Linked DNA regions of Homo sapiens: region 1 is linked to region 2. A link means that fine-mapping ties the variant in region 2 to the expression of a gene that starts in the linked region. Tissue or cell type: tibial artery. Region 2 holds a variant in brackets; the other region holds the start of a gene. All regions are shown on one strand. Distances are from middle to middle.

Region 1 (8,318 bases), 26 kb before region 2:
GCATTTATAAAACTTCATAATATACTTTAAAACAGATAAAACACAAAATCCTGTTATTTTAACAGAATATAAAGTTAAAGAAAAATAATAACAGAACAAGAGGGAAAGGTAGAGAAAAATATTATACAGGTGGTCTGCTGTGAGGCTGGTTCAAAAAACCCTATAGAGGCCAGGCGTGGTGGCTCACACCTGTAATCCCAGCACTTTGGGAGGCCAAGGTGGGTGTAGTGCTTAAGCTCAGGAGTTTGAGACCAGCCTGGCCAACATGGCGAAACCCCATCTCTACTAAAAATACAAAAAATTAGCCGGGTGTGGTGACGTGCGCCCATAATCCCAGTTACTAGGGAGGCTGAGGCACGAGAATTGCTTGAGCCTCGGGGGTGGAGGTTGTAGTGAACCGAAATAATGTCACTCCAGCCTGAGTGACAGGGCAAGAGACTCTATCTCAAAAAAAAGAAAAAAAAAAAAAGAAAAAAAGAAAGAAAGAATAAAGAAAAGAAAAGAAATGAAAAAGAAACCCTGTAGACTGTAAATTTCATTAGCGTAGGGACGGTGTCCACTCTGGTCACTGCTGTATCCCAAATACCTAGCATCAAGCCTGGCACAAACTTAATAAGTCTTTATTATGTGCAATAAATCTTTTCTACATTGAAAGTTCCATGAGGACAGAGTATGCCTGTCTTGGTCACTGCTATATCCTCAAGATCCAGTATAGGGCCTGGGTATAGAAGTTCTTCCAAAATATTTGTCGAATGAATGAAGAAGCTCCAGTAGCAGTGGTGCAGTTCCAAGATTCACCAGGAGGTGGCACTTGGTCCCTGGCTGTCTGCAGCTCACAAGGCAATGAATGGCCAACCTGATCAGCCTGACTAGAAGCCATTAGCCAGAATGGACCAGGGTGGAGGAAGAGAATAAACAAGATGACCCCTCAGGTCCTCCCCAGCTGACATGGAGTGGCTGACTGGAGTGTCAGGGAACCCACTCTTTATCAAAGCTGCAGAAGACAATGTGGGGGAGGAGCCTGACCAGTGTGTCATGTGATGTGTGCACCTGTGTACAGCAGGTGGCACCCAGCCCATGTCTTCACATGCCTGTTCACATCCACCAGCTTTGTTGTAGTGACAATTCGCTTTATTTCATGACTTCTAATAGTGCACCCTCCAGCCCCCACGCTCCACTTCCCCACCTTCCCCCGCACCTCACCTGCACCTAAATGCCTGCAGTACAAGCTCCTCCCTGCTCCAGCCCAAGCTATGTCTCTAGGTTCCCCTACACCAAAGCTGCAGTGCTACCCCTGGGCCAGTGCCAACAGTAAAAAGCCCTTGTCCTTGGGCAGTGCTACATCTGCACACCACCCTCACCTCCAGGCCCCCCTCCTGCCACCTCCCCTCTGCTTCCCCACATGCTGCCCACAGAGCCCCAGGGGCCCCAGGTCACAGGTCCCCTCTACTCAGCTCTTCAGCTACAGTTGCCCCACTCCTTTGCACTTAACAGGAACCTTCCAGTACTAGAAAGCATCTGTTCATTTCTTCAACGTGATATTAAGTAATTGGGTTGCTCTCCCAGCAGGAACAATGCCTTGGACTCTGGGCCTCCATCCCCTTTCCCATGCTCTGCACGCAGGATCCTTGGAAGCATGCATTCACTTGCACAGATCAGGAAAGGAAAACGCTGAAACACAGCAGGTGCTTTCCACTAAGACTTGTTGAATGATCCTATGTGTAAGCGACTTGGCAGTGCATGGGTCTACTCTCTGCCTGCTTGAAGCTGGGCCTTCCATGGGCAGCAGGGAGTTCATCCACTCATTCAACAGATACCTAGAGAATACCAACCAGTGCAGGCACTATTCTAGGCACAAGAGACACAGAAATGGACACAACGAAGTCCCTGTTTGCATAGAGCTTGCATTAGTGTGGGCTGGGAGGCCAGGCCATAAACACATAAATAGGAATAGAACATATCAGATAGAATAAGTACTATGAAGAAACATAAAGCAGGGTGAAAGGAGAAAGAGGATGGGGCACGGGTGGCCAAAAGTCACTCTGAGCAGAAATCTGAAAGAGACAGAGCTCAATCCTGCTGAAATATGAGAAGAGCGCTCCAGCCAAGGAAAACAGAGCGCCAAGGAAAACAGAGCGCCAAGGCTGCGAAGTGCAAGGTCCTTGGAGTAGGACTCGGGGTACAAGTGTCTTTCATGCTGTTCCCCAGGACTAAACCCAACTGGCAAATCGGGCCCAGGCAAAGAGAGGCTGCCAAAGCCCTTCCCAGACTTCCCGATGGTGCCCCCACCCAGCCCCTCACTGCCCAGGGCTCAGTGCCCTCCATTCCAGAGGCACCTGCCATACCCAGGCAAGGCGGAGCGTGCCCGCAGCCATGATGATCCGATTGGGGATGGGGATTACTGGGGCATCTTCTCACTCTGCGACGGCGCCCGCGGTGGGCAGGGGGTGGTGCCCAGGGGGAGCAAAAAAGTAAATTGCAGGGTTGTGCGGTGGCTTAGCCCTGCAACGCGCCCAAGTCACGCTTACACCTAGATGCACAAGAGCACACTGATCCAATTCTCCACGCGCCCACTGTGTCGCAGCCTCATCAGGACACGCTTCCCGCCCAAAGTACCCAGAGCTCACGCCCACGCCCGCATCCAGCCCTCAGCGTGCGCAGGCCGACCCACGCCCCACGACACTTGTCCCGACGCACCAGCTTCGCTGCCGGCTCCCCTCCTGGAGACGCATCTACCTTCTCTCCATGGGGCCCCCGACACCTCCGCCAACCCGCGCTCTGAGCCAGCTCAACCTCCCCTGGGCGTCAAGAGCCTGGAGCGCCCACCCTCCTGCCCTCTCCCCGCTGCCTCTCAGATCCCGGCAGCGCTGCAAGAGTCTACAAGAGCTCGTTAGTTGCAGGCAGGAGGAACGCGGGCGAGTGGAGAGGCGCCTTGCGAAAGGATTTAACGTCGGGGCTCCGGGAGAGTTGGTAAGAAAGGATGAGGATGATGATCTATCTGCCTTCAACTCTTCGAAAGCGGATCAAATCTTCCAATCCCGATTTTGGAACCTCGGGGCTGTTTCCCGAAGTACTAAAGACAGAGGGACGAGGGTATGAGAGCGGCGCCCTCTCCTCTCGCCTGCACGCCCCTCCACAAATGAGCCCTGGCTCCCCTCTGTACCCTCCAAACTTCCCTCTCCCATGCTCACCCCGTGAGCCGCCCTCGCGGCGGGGTTGGGGGCGCAGCCCCAGACCGCTGTGGGGTCCCCAGGCGTGGGAGAGCCGGCGCGGCCCGGGTCCGGGGTGCTGGTTGCTGCTGGCCCAGGGGAGTGCTTCTCCGGGTCTGCGCAGGTGGCTGGACACGCCGCGACTGCTGCGCGCGGGACGGCCTCCTGGCCTCCGCCTCGGTGGGCCTCCTGGGGCTCCCCCAGCCCGGCTGGGCCCGCTCCACGGGCTGCAAGCCCGCGACAGGCGCGTCCTGCTCCCGGAACAGACTGTACACCTTGGCTGCAGCCGCTGCCGGGTAGCTGCCCCCAGGGCGCCGCAGTCGATTCGCGTCTCCACCAGCCGGCTCGTATCTCCCTACGGGGTCCCTTTGGGCATGACCCGCGCCCACGAAGAGAGCCAGGGTGAGCGGCAGGAAGCCTCTCCAGGGGTTCCGCAGGGCGCGCCCCGGGCTGCGGGCTTTGGTCCGCGGCCTCATGGCGCGGGGCGGCTGGAGAGTGGTGCGCGCGGGCACCGCGAAGAGCTTTGTGGTCGGCACGCTGGACGCCCGCGGGCTGTTCTCCCGGCCCCGCCCGGCGGCCAGCTTCTCTGAGTCTAGGGGGCCCTGAAGCGGCCGACTGGGGGCCCGGCTCTCGGCGGAACGAGGGCTGCGCGCCCCGAGCCTCGAGTCCGCGCTCCTACTCCAGCTGGGCTCGCACGGCTGCTGCACCTTCGCGCCTCCTCCCTGTGCCTGCAGCCGTCTGAAGGGGACCCGGACGGTTTTATTTTTGGAAACCTCCCCCGGCTTTTTCGTCTCTTTTATCCACACCAGGCCCCCTCCTCGGAGGGACAGCTCAGCCCCCTCATTACCGGAGAGGGAGCGAGGAATTCCAGCAACACCCACTTTGGCACCGGGAAGCCAGCGGGCGGCGAGCGGGCGGCGAGGGGGATTAACCCGTGCGGAGCAGGGGGCGGCGCGGGGCTGACCCAGGCGCTGGTCGGGCAGATGGCGCCTGCCACGACCGGGACACTGGGCCGCCTTTCTCCTGCTCTGGGCAAGTTCGAACTGCAGACCTGCCCCGAATCGTTCTCCCGCCCCTCGCCTCAGGGACCGTCTTTGGATCGGGGGACCCAGGCTGCAGCCTTGCAGGTCTGAAGGAAGCCGGGAGGGGCGCCGAGGCCCGCGTAGGGGAACAGGGCCGCCGCCCCCTCCGCTTGCGCCCTGGCCGCTGGGGGCGCCCTCCGCAGGGCCGGCCGGAGCGGGGGTGGCGCGGGGCGGGGCGCGGCGCGCGGAGCGCAGGGAGGTCCCGGGCGCGCCCCCTGGCGGAGCTGGCGGCCCTGGCGCTCCGTGGCTGCAATGCCCTGGCGCCGCCGCCTTCGCTCTGGATCTCAATCCCCTTCCACTGGCGTGAGGGTCACGCCTGAGCCTGGCGCGGTGATGGCTGCCGGTAGAAGAGGGGTCCTCTTTTTCTTTTTCTTTTTCTTTTCTTTCTTTCTTTCTTTCTTTTTTTTGAGACGGAGTTTCGCTCTTGTTGCCCAGGCTGGAGTGCAATGGTGCGATCTCAGCTCCCCGCAACCTCCGCCTCCCGGGTTCAAGCGATTCCCCTGCCTCAGCCTCCCTAGTAGCTGGGATTACAGGCATGCGCCACCAAGTCTGACTAATTTTGTATATTATTTTATTTTTTAGTACAGACGGGGTTTCTCCATGTTGGTCAGGCTGGTCTCGAACTCCCAACCTCAGGTGATCCGCCCGCCTCGGCCTCCCAAAGTGCTGGGATTAAAGGCGTGAGCCACCACGCCCGGCCAAGGGGTCCTCTTTTTCACCGAGGCAAAGACACGGAGCCTCTTGAGTAAGTCACTCAAGGAGATAGCGCATGTGAAAGAGGGGAGTGGAATCTAGGCCTCCCGCCTCTGGCTGAATCCATTCCCGGGATCCCACCCAGCCCTTCACTCTCTCGGGAATTTCCCAGAGGGGGATTCGGTGACCCCGATTGACCCAGTGTGTGCATTCACATCTTGTGTTAGCAGGGAGGCGGGCAGGGGTGTGGGAATGCTGACTGCCGCTGTCTGCGTGTCCCCAGTAATCAGCACACCATTCTCACCCATGCTCCCTCCCTACAGCCTAAAGGCTTGGATCAACAGGGCTGCCCCTGGCACATTTGTACAGCCTATTTCCCAGAGAGGCAGAGTGAAGGAGCTGGCATGTGGGCACCAGTTCACAACCTCCCACACCACACAAAAGACAAGCCCAGGTAATATCTACTGTTGAAATAAAGCCTCGACCCCTGGCCTTGGCCTACAAACCCTAGCTGGCTGCCCCCGCTCTGATTTCATCTGGCCTCTTGCTCTCCCTTACCCACCACACTGTGCTGCCTTGGCCCTCTCTCTGCTCCTTGAACAAGCCAAGTGAATGCCCCCTTCCCTCTACTGGAAGGTTCCTCTCCAGGATGTTAGAGGGTAGTTCCTCATCACTGCTCCTCTCAGATTAAATATCAGCTCCTGGAGTAGCCATCCCTGACCTCCAATCTAGAGCAGCCCTCCCTCACCCCAGTCATGACTCTAACACACCACCCTGTTTCATCTTCATAAAACAGTTGACATCATCTTGTTATTGATTTGTTTGCTCGTGTAACTGAATTTTTTAATGGGCTGAACCTAAAGAGGGACTATCCAGAAACTGCTCCACTACTACCTTCAACCATATTATGGTAAATTTCCCTTTCCCACCCTTAATGACATCTCAGGCAGAGTCCTTGGCTTGAGAGGTCATCCCTACCAGACACGAGAACTATTCTATTAATATAATTAAGACCCATTTTCAGACACAAAAAGTCTGCTCCTGTCCAGATCAAAATCTCATCCAAGTTAATCAATATCACATCCCATTTAATAGTCCTCCTCTCCCCTGTCCCTTTGCTAGAGATCCTGCAGTGGTGAGAGTGGGGTGTGGTCTGTTTTCCTGACCTCCCTTTTCTGCTGTGGCTCCTCTTTGTCAAGGCTGGGAGAGAGGTGTTAGAGGAAAAGTAGCAAAGTCTTATGTGACAGGTACCCTTGGTTGGCAGGTGCCAAGCGCTGGCTTTTTCATGGGCACATATGTGGGTTTTTGGGAGGTTCTCTACAGGACCTCCACCCTGAGTTGCCATAGCAAATTACTCTCTGGCCAACCTCTCGGAGACCCCTGCATCCTCTGTCTCTCATAGGACTGTCCCACCTATGCCAGGCAAAACAATGGTGGGTTGGCCGCTCCTCACCCTGCCCACTTCTCACCTTGCCACACAGGCCACTCCAGCGAGGCTCCACGATCAGAATTCTCCAGACAGGAAGTGCACACAAGTCTCTTCATTTATGTACGTCCTCAATTCCTAAAGACATATGTTGGGTTCTCCCATGAACTGTCTTGCTGTAGTTTAATGCACCGAGGTGCCTGTAACATCCAGCAACATAGTCAGCATCAGTGGGGGGACAGTTATAGGGACAGAGCCTCCTCTTCTTGCAGATGACTGGTTCTCTCTGGGAGCTCCCTTCATTTGGTTTGAGTTGGGGAGTTCCCTCAGGGGAAATCTCAGCCCTGCCCACAAATGCAGCAGTGTTATGCTTCAGTGACTTTCTTCAATCCCTTTCATTTGTAGACTGGAATTGAGGGATGTAGTTTGATTGCTGTTGAACCTGTTCTGCCTTTAGTAAGGTGTCTAGTACTTCTCTTCAGAATGCAAGAATATTTAGCCCTCATTGTTCTATCTTTGTGGCTTCAGCAGATATTCCAAGAGCAGAGGAAAAGTCCTATTCAACAACCTATAAAATCATTTCTTGTCTGACTTCCCAAACCACAATGACAGCTCTAAAGCAACAGATATCTTGTCTGCGTTGCTCACCACTGTTTCTGCAGAACCTAGAACAGCCAAGAAGTATGTGTGAAATGGATAGCTAACTGAATGAAGGACACAGTAATCCCATCAAGTGGGGAGGGCTGGTATCATTAGACCCATTTTAAGAGAGAGGAACTGAGTTCTGGGTGGCAGCTCCTGATCCAGGTTCATGTGCTTGCTGCCTTTGGGGCTGGCTCTAAAGATCTCCTTGAACCCTACCCCTTGCATTTGACCATGAATGCCCCTTAGTTCCCAGAATGCTGCGTTCTGTTCCTGGGATGCTGCTCCTTCACAGCTGTGGAAGCCCCAGGTCCACACTTACCTCTCCTTGCCCAGATATCCACCCACCTCTGTAGTTCTGGGCTCCCTTCCTCTCCCCGGAACCTACCCACTTCCTTCAGAAGCTCCCCTCTAGATCCCTCAAGACCCACCTCAGATCCCCGTGGGCCTCCAAAAGCCAGAAACCTTGGCATCATCTTCGTCCCTGAGCTATTTTTTCCTCCTGTGTGTCCAAGTCATTATTACTGCTCCGTCTCCTCCGTCTGCATTTCTGGAAGTCTGCCGCCCATTCATCCCTCACCCTTCGCCTCCGCCAAAACCCTCACGCAGACCAACTTTCCCTCACCATCGGGCGCCCCTTCCACTCCTCAGTGAGTACAAGTGGTCCTTGGACGTTCCCACCCTGTTCGCCTGGGGACCATAACCCAGTTCATCTACTCCAAAGACTGGCATCTTCTACCCCATCCCGGCGCCACACTCTGTCCTGCCACCTACTTACTGCCCATATCTCCCTTACCCTCTAACTGCTGGGACTGATTGCAGCTCTTCAGAATCTCCAATCCCACAAACACTTGAGTTTTGCTTTTTTTTTTTAACCTGCCAAAATCGATAGAGCCTACTTTAGTCCAAACGCCATACTAAGCATGTTACATCAATTGGCTGATTTAACCAACCAAAGGAGGCATTATGATTTCCACGCATACAAAGGAGGAAACTGAGGTTGGCAATGGCTACTGGCTTGCCCAAGATGGCACAGCTGATAAATAGCAGAGGCAGGATTCAAACCTGGATCATTTTCCACCTGAGCCCAAGCTTTTAAGGTTACACCGCCTTGCCTCCACCCCGGGCTTGTAAGCCTGGAGCCCTCTTCACAATTGAATCATGACCTTTCCAACCACCCCACCACTATCACCACCAAAGGAGCTCTAGGGCATATCCCCAAATGCCCTCTTCCCTGCCTGCCAGCCCACTGTTCATGTACCTGGA
Region 2 (8,323 bases):
CATGAGCTGTCTGGCTTTGGATGATTCTAAAGCAACTGCCTTCCATTATGGGTAATGACTCCAACTCAGATTCAAATTCCCCAGGAAAAAGTCTGACAGATCTTGGGTCTATGCTCACCCTTTGAGAATGGAGGGTTGGGAGAGTCCTGTGGCTGGCAGCCCCACCAGGAATGCATGGAATTGGGGAGTTTGAGTTTCCCAAAGGAAAGCTGAGTTTCTGTTACTCAAGGAAGGGAAGAAGTGCTGGGCATATGTGCACAGCAGATGTTCTCTACACATGGGATGTCAATTGAGAGAGGTGGGGGATGGATGGGGTGGGGGATGGGAATTTCCAGGACGCTGCAGAACCTGCCATAGGGGCCAAGGCTCCTGCCACAGCCCTGGATTGCATCTCCCTCTCCTCCTATAAAAGCAAGCTCAGGAAAAGAACATTGTTTCTGTTCTTGACAGCTCCATAGAATTGTCTCCTTAGCTTCCAGTCACGCTCAGCTCCTGCTAGAATAATTACCACCCACCTGTTCTCCATACAAGAATTCACAGCCAGTGGACACACATCTGGCCTGTAAAAGACATGCTTGGAAGTCTCCCAGGCTGCTTGGAACAGGCAGGAGACAACACAGGGTCAGCCACTAATTCAAAGGCAAGGAAACAGCTGGCCTGAGAGCTATGGTCACTGGAGCCTAAGTGGCAGCGAACTCCTCCCCTGCCAGGCAGCTCAATGGATGTGGGACAGGTGTGTCCTGAGACAAACAAACCCCCTGAGACTCAGAGGAGGTTTGAGTGCTGGGCCCTGTCCTCTTCTTCCAGCACATGGCTGTCTTCCCCACCCCCATCTGCTTCTCTAGTGGGTGGAGGGGGCTAATACCCTGCCTTTCTTGGAGTTCCTTTATTTTTCTTCCCATTACTGTTTACATCACTCCCTTCTAAACACCATGGAAATTAAGAAAAGGCCAGGTAAAGTTTTAATGGGGAGGGCCAGAAATATTTTGGTGGTGAAGGTAATTGCATCCAAGTTTTAAGGATGTGGATGCAGAATTGGAAGGGAGCAGGGCGCGGTGGCTCACGCCTGTAATCCCAACAATTTGGGAGGTCAAGGCAAGTGGATGTCTTGAGACCAGAAGTTCGAGACCAGCCTGGCCAACATGGTGAAACCCCATCTCTACTAAAAACAAAAATTAACCAGGCATGGTGGCACACACCCGTAATCCCAGCTACTCAGGAGGCTGAGGCAGGAGAATAGCATGAACCCATGAGGCAGAGGTTGCAGTGAGCCAAGATCGCACCACTGCACTCCAGCCTGGGCAACTGAGCGAGACTGTCTCAAAGAAAAAAAAAATGGAATTGGAAGGGGACTGACTGAGAGAGCCTCTAGGCCAGCGGTTTTCAACTTTTTTTTTTTTTTTTTTTTGAGCAAAACCTTTGTGCAGTGTTTCAGCATTCAACAAATATTTACTGAATGCCAACTCTGTCCCAGGTGCTGTGCTAGGGGATACAGCAGCATGCAATCCAGACCTGATTCCAGCCCTTGTGAGCATACAGTGTAGTGGAGGAGACAGACACTGGGAAAATAATTAGATAAGTAGATCAACAGTGAGCTGCAATTGAAGTAGAGCTAAGAAAGAGACGTATGCAGCTAGATGACCTAATACAGACTTGGGAGGGGATTTGGGGAAGGTATCCCCAAAGGAATGACATTGGAGCTGAGATCTGAAGGGTGCACAGAACTCAGAAAGGAGGTATGGAGGAGGACGGTCAGGAGGAGATGTCATAAGATCCTGGAGGTAGGAAGGCTCTTGTGCTGGAGGAACTCACAGGCAAGGCAAGCAGAGTAGTGTGGGATGCAGGGGCTAGGGATTCAGGGACCAGACTGCCAGGGGTTCAGGAGTCAGATCCAAGATGTGAACAGGAAACTGGGGAGCTCCTGTGGCTGGAAAGGGGCCCGCCCTTGATCTCTCCCCAAACACCCCAACACACATACTTCCCTTTGCCTTATAGCCTCTGAGGCATCTTGGAGGAACGTTGGGGCTTGTCCGAATACCGCTTGAAAACCACAAATCCAGCCCTATTGCCATTTTCAGATGTGAAGACTGAGAATCAACAATTGCCCCCTCCCAGTGCCCTCTCTGTTAACTCTGGGCAGCTAATCCAGCCTCCCTGGAGAGAGTGTGATGCGGTGACAGACTCTGAGGACACTGCAGACAGCTCAGTGTTTCAGGAATGATGGGGACAGCCTTGAGAGCCAGCCCAGGGCTCTGGCATGGGGAATGGACCCCAAAGATGAGAGGTTGGCCCAGTCTGGGGCACTCAGTCTTTTCTGCCTGTGCTGGGAGAGTCTCTGACCCTCTTAGCCCATCCCCATCATTCATCCAGAGGCGCAGGCAGGCCGCCTGCCAGGATAGCAGATCCCACTCAGCTCTGGCCTCAACATTCCTCTCCCCGCCGGGGGGAAAGGTCAAGTGTAGGATATTTTCCCAAGCCCTGGAGAACAGCAGCACCTCCTGATATCTACAGCTACTACCCAGCTTGAAGGGCAACTACCAGGGCAGACAGGCAGGACGGGAGAGCAGTCAGCTGGCCCTCTAAGCAGGGCTGCAGGGGGAAGGGACTGGGGAGGCAGGGCCTGAAATATATCAACAACTTCAGCCCCAAGAAGTAGAGTAGAGAGTGGGTGATGGGAAAAGGGCTTGCATGGCAGGGGTCTGAGGCTGAGGCTCCGTCTGCCTCAGGAAGGCTAAAACGTTCCTGCTTCAACCCAGCTGGTCCTCATTTAACTAACTCCAGGGTCTGGCCTCTCTGGAGACCCCCTGCTGGCCCGTCTGCAGCTCCTGGAGCAGAAGCCAAAAGCAGCCACCAGCTTAGAGACAGCAGCTGAACCCAGAGCCCCCCAAGCAGGAGACAGGCAGTGCAGGCATTGCAGGCCCCTTTGCAACCCTGCAAGGAGTCAAAAGCCAAGTAGGTGGGGCTGGGGGGAAGGCTTCAGAGATAAAGAAGGCAGAGGCAATTGTCTCTAAGCCAGATCAGGAGCAGCTATGGAGAGAAAAATCTCTTGGAGCCTGGAAGGTGGTTTCATCAGTCAAGGCTGTCCTAAGGCAAACTATGCAACAGTAGCCTCCCTTCTTCCCCCGTCTCCCTTCTGCCCCTCATCCAGCACACTGCTCTGTGAGCACTGGGCACTTGCCATCCTGCCATCCTCCCCCAGGGGAAGGCAGGTACAGAGGAACAAGGGAGCAGGTGCCAGAAGGCCTGAATTCAAATCTAGCTGCTCCCTATTCTAGCCGTGTGACCTTCGGCAAAGATCTGAACCTCTGAGACTCTGCTCCTGCTTCTGTAAAAATGGGATGGATAAGAGCTATGTCATAGGACTGTAGAAATGATTGAATGAGAAAATGAAGGTAAAGATCTTAGGTCTTATTGAGTTTGCCATGGATACTCCTCATGGGACAAGAGAGAGAGAAGGGGGAAGTGGGGAAGTACTGGGGACTGTTGAATGATCCAAATGGGATGCCTGATGAATGGGGCAGCTCCCAAATGTTTCAACCCTGTTTCCAAGGTAGAGGCTGGGCCAGAGAGTGGGTGGTGAGGGCCTGAGGTAGGGAAAGTTATTCTGTATTGAAAAGAAAACAGAGAGAGGAAGTCAGATCTCACGACGTGC[G/A]TCAGCCAAGAGCCTGGGCAGACAGTGTCTCCTCCAGAGGAAGGGCTGGTACTCCGGCACTCTGTTGCCCTCTGGCAGCCGCTAAGCTCCTGTTTTCCTCATTAAGCTGTCCGCAACCTGGCCCCCTTTACACTGCTGATAAGGGCCAGAAACAATTCAGAATCCCCAACAGATGGCATCTGTGGTTTTCAATGTCACCTCCCGATGGAATCAACAAGGTGGGGCTGAACTCAGGTGGACTGCAGGGAGTCAGGGCAGAAAAGCACCAACTCTGAGGGGTGGAGTCCAGGATTCGGGAACCTCACTGTGTGCCCAGCGATGTTAGGCCTCGTGGACACATAAAATGGTAAAAGCTAGTATTTGTTGGGCACACACTATTTGCCAAGCTTTGGTGCTAAGCACATAAGTTTATTATCTCATTTAATCCCCATAACAACCCTACGAAGTTGATAGCATTATTATTCCTATTTTATAGGCAGAGGAACTGAGGCAGAGTGCCTCAGGGGCTTATAATTTGTTGGGGAGTCAAGAACACAGGTTAATACCCCCAAGGGAGAAGAGAACAAAATCTGAGCTGTTTCTCACCATCCCAAGTGGCCCTGTCCTCAGTTTTGCATCACTGTCTGCCTCAGTTTCCCCAGATTTCCAGCTACCACCATGGTGGCTGAGCTCAAAAGGCAGCCTCCAATCACTGTTCTAGGGATGGACATGCTCATTTTCCCAAAGTTCAGCCAAGGCAGAATTTGTCAAAATAAGTTTATCTAGGAAACGTAGAAGAGGATGGAACAAAATAATATAAAAAGCAAATGCTCTGGGAAGAGAGCAGCTTATGAGGCAGTTTTCATGTCCCAAGATGAGGAAAATAATAATAGCTATTGGTGTGCCAAGTATCAGACACTGTGCTATGCTCTTGATTATGTTATTTTGTTTAATCCTCAAGGGGACTGAAGTATTACACAAGCATTATTGTCCTCATTTCACAAATAAGGGAACAGATGTTCAGAGAGGTTAAGCAACTTGTCCAGGTCACATAGCTTGTAAGGAATAGAGAGCTAGGAGTCAAGCTTGCCTTTGCTTTTAACAATTTAAATAAAGGAGACAGGCATGGTGAGTACAACCAGCTGACAACCAGACAGGCCTCTTGCTTCCAGGCCCCATTTAGGTCTAATGGAGAGATTTGACTGAACAACCTAGATCCTAAATGGCAGGTTTTCAGGATAGCTCTGCTGATCCTCCATCTGACAGATTTTCAGATCTTGCTCAGGAAATAATCAGAACACTTTTCCTACTGGACAAGTCTGGAAAAAACCTTGGCAAATCTGTACCCTCCAGTTCTCCTAGTCCCCATTTACACAGCCCAAAACAAAACAAACAAACAAAACCCAAAACACCCCAATAAATTAAAACCCTGTATTTGCACTTGCACTTCATTTCAAATGAAGTACACGCCTCATGGCCAGGCACAGTGGCTCAGGCCTATAATCCCAGCACTTTGGGAGGCTGAGGTGGGTGGATCACGAGGTCAGGAGTCCAAGACCAGCCTGGCCAAGATGGTGAAACCCCGTCTCTACTAAAAATACAAAAAAATGTAGCCGGGTGTGGTGGTGGGCACTTGTAATCCCAGCTACCCGGGAGGCTGAGGCAGAGAACTGCTTGAACCCAGGAGGCGGAGGTTGCAGTGAGCTGAGATTGCACCACTAAATTCCAGCCTGGGCAACAAAGTGAGACTTTGTCTCAAAAAACAAACAAAAAACCAAAACAAAACAACAACAACAACAAACAAACAGAAAAAATACCAAATTACCCTCATAACATGCTACAATTTCCACACTATTTCACTGGTTAACTGATGGTTCTTCAAGCCCAGAGATAATGTGAGTAAGCCCGTAACCCAGTGCCTGGCAAGAGATGCGTTGTTGCTGCAATTATCATTAAGAGACCTCTTCCTGTGTTCACATCAGCAAGTCATCCCTGATACCCTTGGAATAAAGCAGTATGAAATTAAGTACTAATTGAATGGTTGATATCAATAGCTATTGATAAGTAATATTTATTAAGCAGCTACTGCATGCCAGATTTTAGTCTATATAGCTTTACACGCATTATCTCTTTTAATCTTTATAACAACCCCATGAGATAGGAATTATTGTTACTCCCTCTGTTTTAAAGACAATGAAACTAAGGCCTGGAAGTACTAAATAATTTGCTTATGGTCACACAACACCCAGATGGCGGGAGTGGGATTTGAACCCAGACAGCTAAGTTCAGAACCTGCACCAGTAACCTCTTTCCTCTCCTGCCTCCCGTGATGGGTTTGACAATAGGATACAGAGGGTCAAAGAAAGAAGATGTCCTTGTGTGCTGGGGGAGTTGGGGGAAGCTTCCTGGAGGGAATGGGCTCTACTGGACTTGAAAGAAGGACAAGAGAAGTGAAGCAAAACAGACATCAATTTTAGGCTGGAAGATGATCCTGAAGTCTCATGGGACCCAAAAATGGGACATCAGGAGAGCTCTCATCTTTGGAACATGAGGGATTGCTTATCCTCTGAAGCAGTGTCATTTGGCCAACTTGTCAGTCCAAGGAAGGACTCAGAGCTTATCAGGAACCTGTGGGGTCTGCACTGGGTCTGTAGCATCAAAATAGAGGAGGAGGACAGCAACAGATCTCCTGGGAGGCCCTGGGGATAGGGCCAGGATTAGATCAACTCCCTGCCATCTCCATACTGATCACAGGATTTGCTTAGAGGAAGTTGTGTTTGGTTTGCTGTGACCATGGCAGGGTTGCCCCAGCAGGTATGGATGCAGAGGGGCTCAAGGACCCACAAGTCTGTAGGAGTTCACAGAAATCTTAGAGAGAAGCTTCAACTTCACTTAAGCCACAAAAATATTGGGGGCTGGGGAAGAATTAAATTCCAGGCTAGGTAGGCTCCCAGCTGACACCATGTTAGAGTCTTCCCGCCCACCACCCGCCAAAGGCATGTCTGGGAGGGCCAAATGAGACATACCTGGCACGTGGCAAGTGCCCTTAAAGGTTCAGCAACTGGCTGGGCGTGGTGGCTCACACCTGTAATCCCAGCACTTTGGGAGGCTGAGGCAGGCACATCACCTGAGGTTACCTGAGTTTGAGACCAGCCTGGCCAACATAATGAAACCCCGTCTTTACTAAAAATACAAAATTTAGCTGGGTGTGGTGGTGCATGCCTGTAATACCAGCTGCTTGGTGGGAGGCTGAGGTGGGAAAATCACTTGAATTCGGGAGGTAGAGGTTGCAGTGAACCGAGATTGCACCACTGCACTCCAGCCTGGGCGACAGAGCAAGACTCTGCCAAAAAAAAAAAAAAAAAAAAAAAAAAAGATTCAGCAACCTTCTCCAGGCCCCATCTTTCAGAGCTCACTTGCTTGGCTGTGGATTACAAATCTGTCAACCAGACTCCCAGATGCCACCTGCTACCTGTTTGTGAACACGCACATCTTCCTGCACAGTCCCCTGTGTGAATATGTGTTACAAACCTTTCCAGGAAGCAGAGTTAAACTGAGAAGATTCTATCTGTTCGGGTCCCAGCGGCCCACAGTATGGCCTCCCTGGACTTAAAGTCTAGAATGACTTTGCATGGATTGAGATGCTATGAGGGTGGAGTGTTATGAGAGCTTGCCAAGCTGAGACTGGCTGGGGAGGGGACATCACAGGTACTCTTAGGAGGCCTGAGAATCCGAACAAAACGGTATCACTAGGCAGAATGTGGCCGAAGCTACTAGTTGGGTGCTGAGCATAGTTCGGCAATTTTGTGAGCATATTTGTAAGAACATATATGTTTATCAGTAGAAATAATGCACTGTCTGGGTTGACTGGCTCTGTTTGTGTACATTCTTGGATCCCAGAGAGCCCTGGGGAGCAATACATCACACAAGCATTTCTCGCCTGAGAGCTGGTCAGAGGGATCATTCCAGGGAAAGCTGGGCTGGTGTTGACCAGCTGAGGTCTGAGAGAGAACATGTGTGCACCCCAAGGCCAGGCCTGGCTCTCATAAGCACTGGTGGAATTTCTGAGTGCATCAGTTACTCTGCACCTGTCCCTTTACACTTAGCCCCAGCCTGGCCTGGCCCGGCCCAGCAAGTCTGCAGCCAGAGGTAGCCTGGAAAGAACTGGCCAACGCTTTCGAGAACCAGGCTGAGGCCAGAAGGCACGCAAAGCCTGAAGGATTCCTCTCTGCTCAGGATCCCATGTGAGAAGTCTGGGGCTCCTGTCACGTATGTTCTCAGCTGTCACCGCACAGCTCACTTTCTTTTATCATGGCCACGTGTGTGCATGTTTTGCTCTCCTACTGCACTTCAAGCCATTGTTACTCAATGTGTGGTCCGTGGGCCCATAGCATCAGCGTCAACCAGGAGCTTGTTAGAAACACAGAATCTCGGGGCCCATCACAGACATATCAGATCACAATCTGTATATTAACAAGAACCCCAGTGATTTGAATGCACATTAAAGTTTGAGAAACACTGCTACTTGAAAGCAGGAGTGAACCTTGTCACGGTGATCTTTGTACAACTAAGCTTTTGTATCCCAGATGCTTGGTGGTAATTAGGTGCTCAATAAATACATGTTTTAACATTTCATTTTGAAATAATTATAGACTTAGAGAAGAGTTGCAAAAATAGTACAGTGATGTATGT

Which allele goes with the higher level. Positions count from the first base shown, and alleles are read on the strand shown. Sizes are in standard deviations (SD) of each study's normalised expression.
For the expression in tibial artery of the gene that starts at base 3,978 in region 1, allele G in region 2 goes with a higher level than allele A (small effect, 0.12 SD a copy in GTEx).

What was found.
Region 1: LTBP2 starts here. The variant in region 2 is fine-mapped to the expression of LTBP2 in tibial artery (GTEx, PIP 0.98).

What each region holds. Positions count from the first base shown.
Region 1 is chr14:74,608,260-74,616,577 of GRCh38, forward strand. LTBP2 (latent transforming growth factor beta binding protein 2) reads right to left here and starts at 3,978. Exons shown (of 36, transcript NM_000428.3): 1 at 3,192-3,978. The coding sequence starts at 3,685. It overlaps LOC101928352 (a long non-coding RNA gene), which reads left to right and starts at 4,926. Exons shown (of 2, transcript XR_944029.4): 1 at 4,926-5,036; 2 at 5,308-5,789. RefSeq lists an enhancer at 4,034-4,661 and a silencer at 4,289-4,608.
Region 2 is chr14:74,634,550-74,642,872 of GRCh38, forward strand. No RefSeq gene overlaps it. Among named protein-coding and RNA genes, the nearest start is that of LTBP2, 26 kb to the left of the region's middle. RefSeq lists a silencer at 497-791. The variant G/A (reference allele first, on the strand shown) is at 3,653.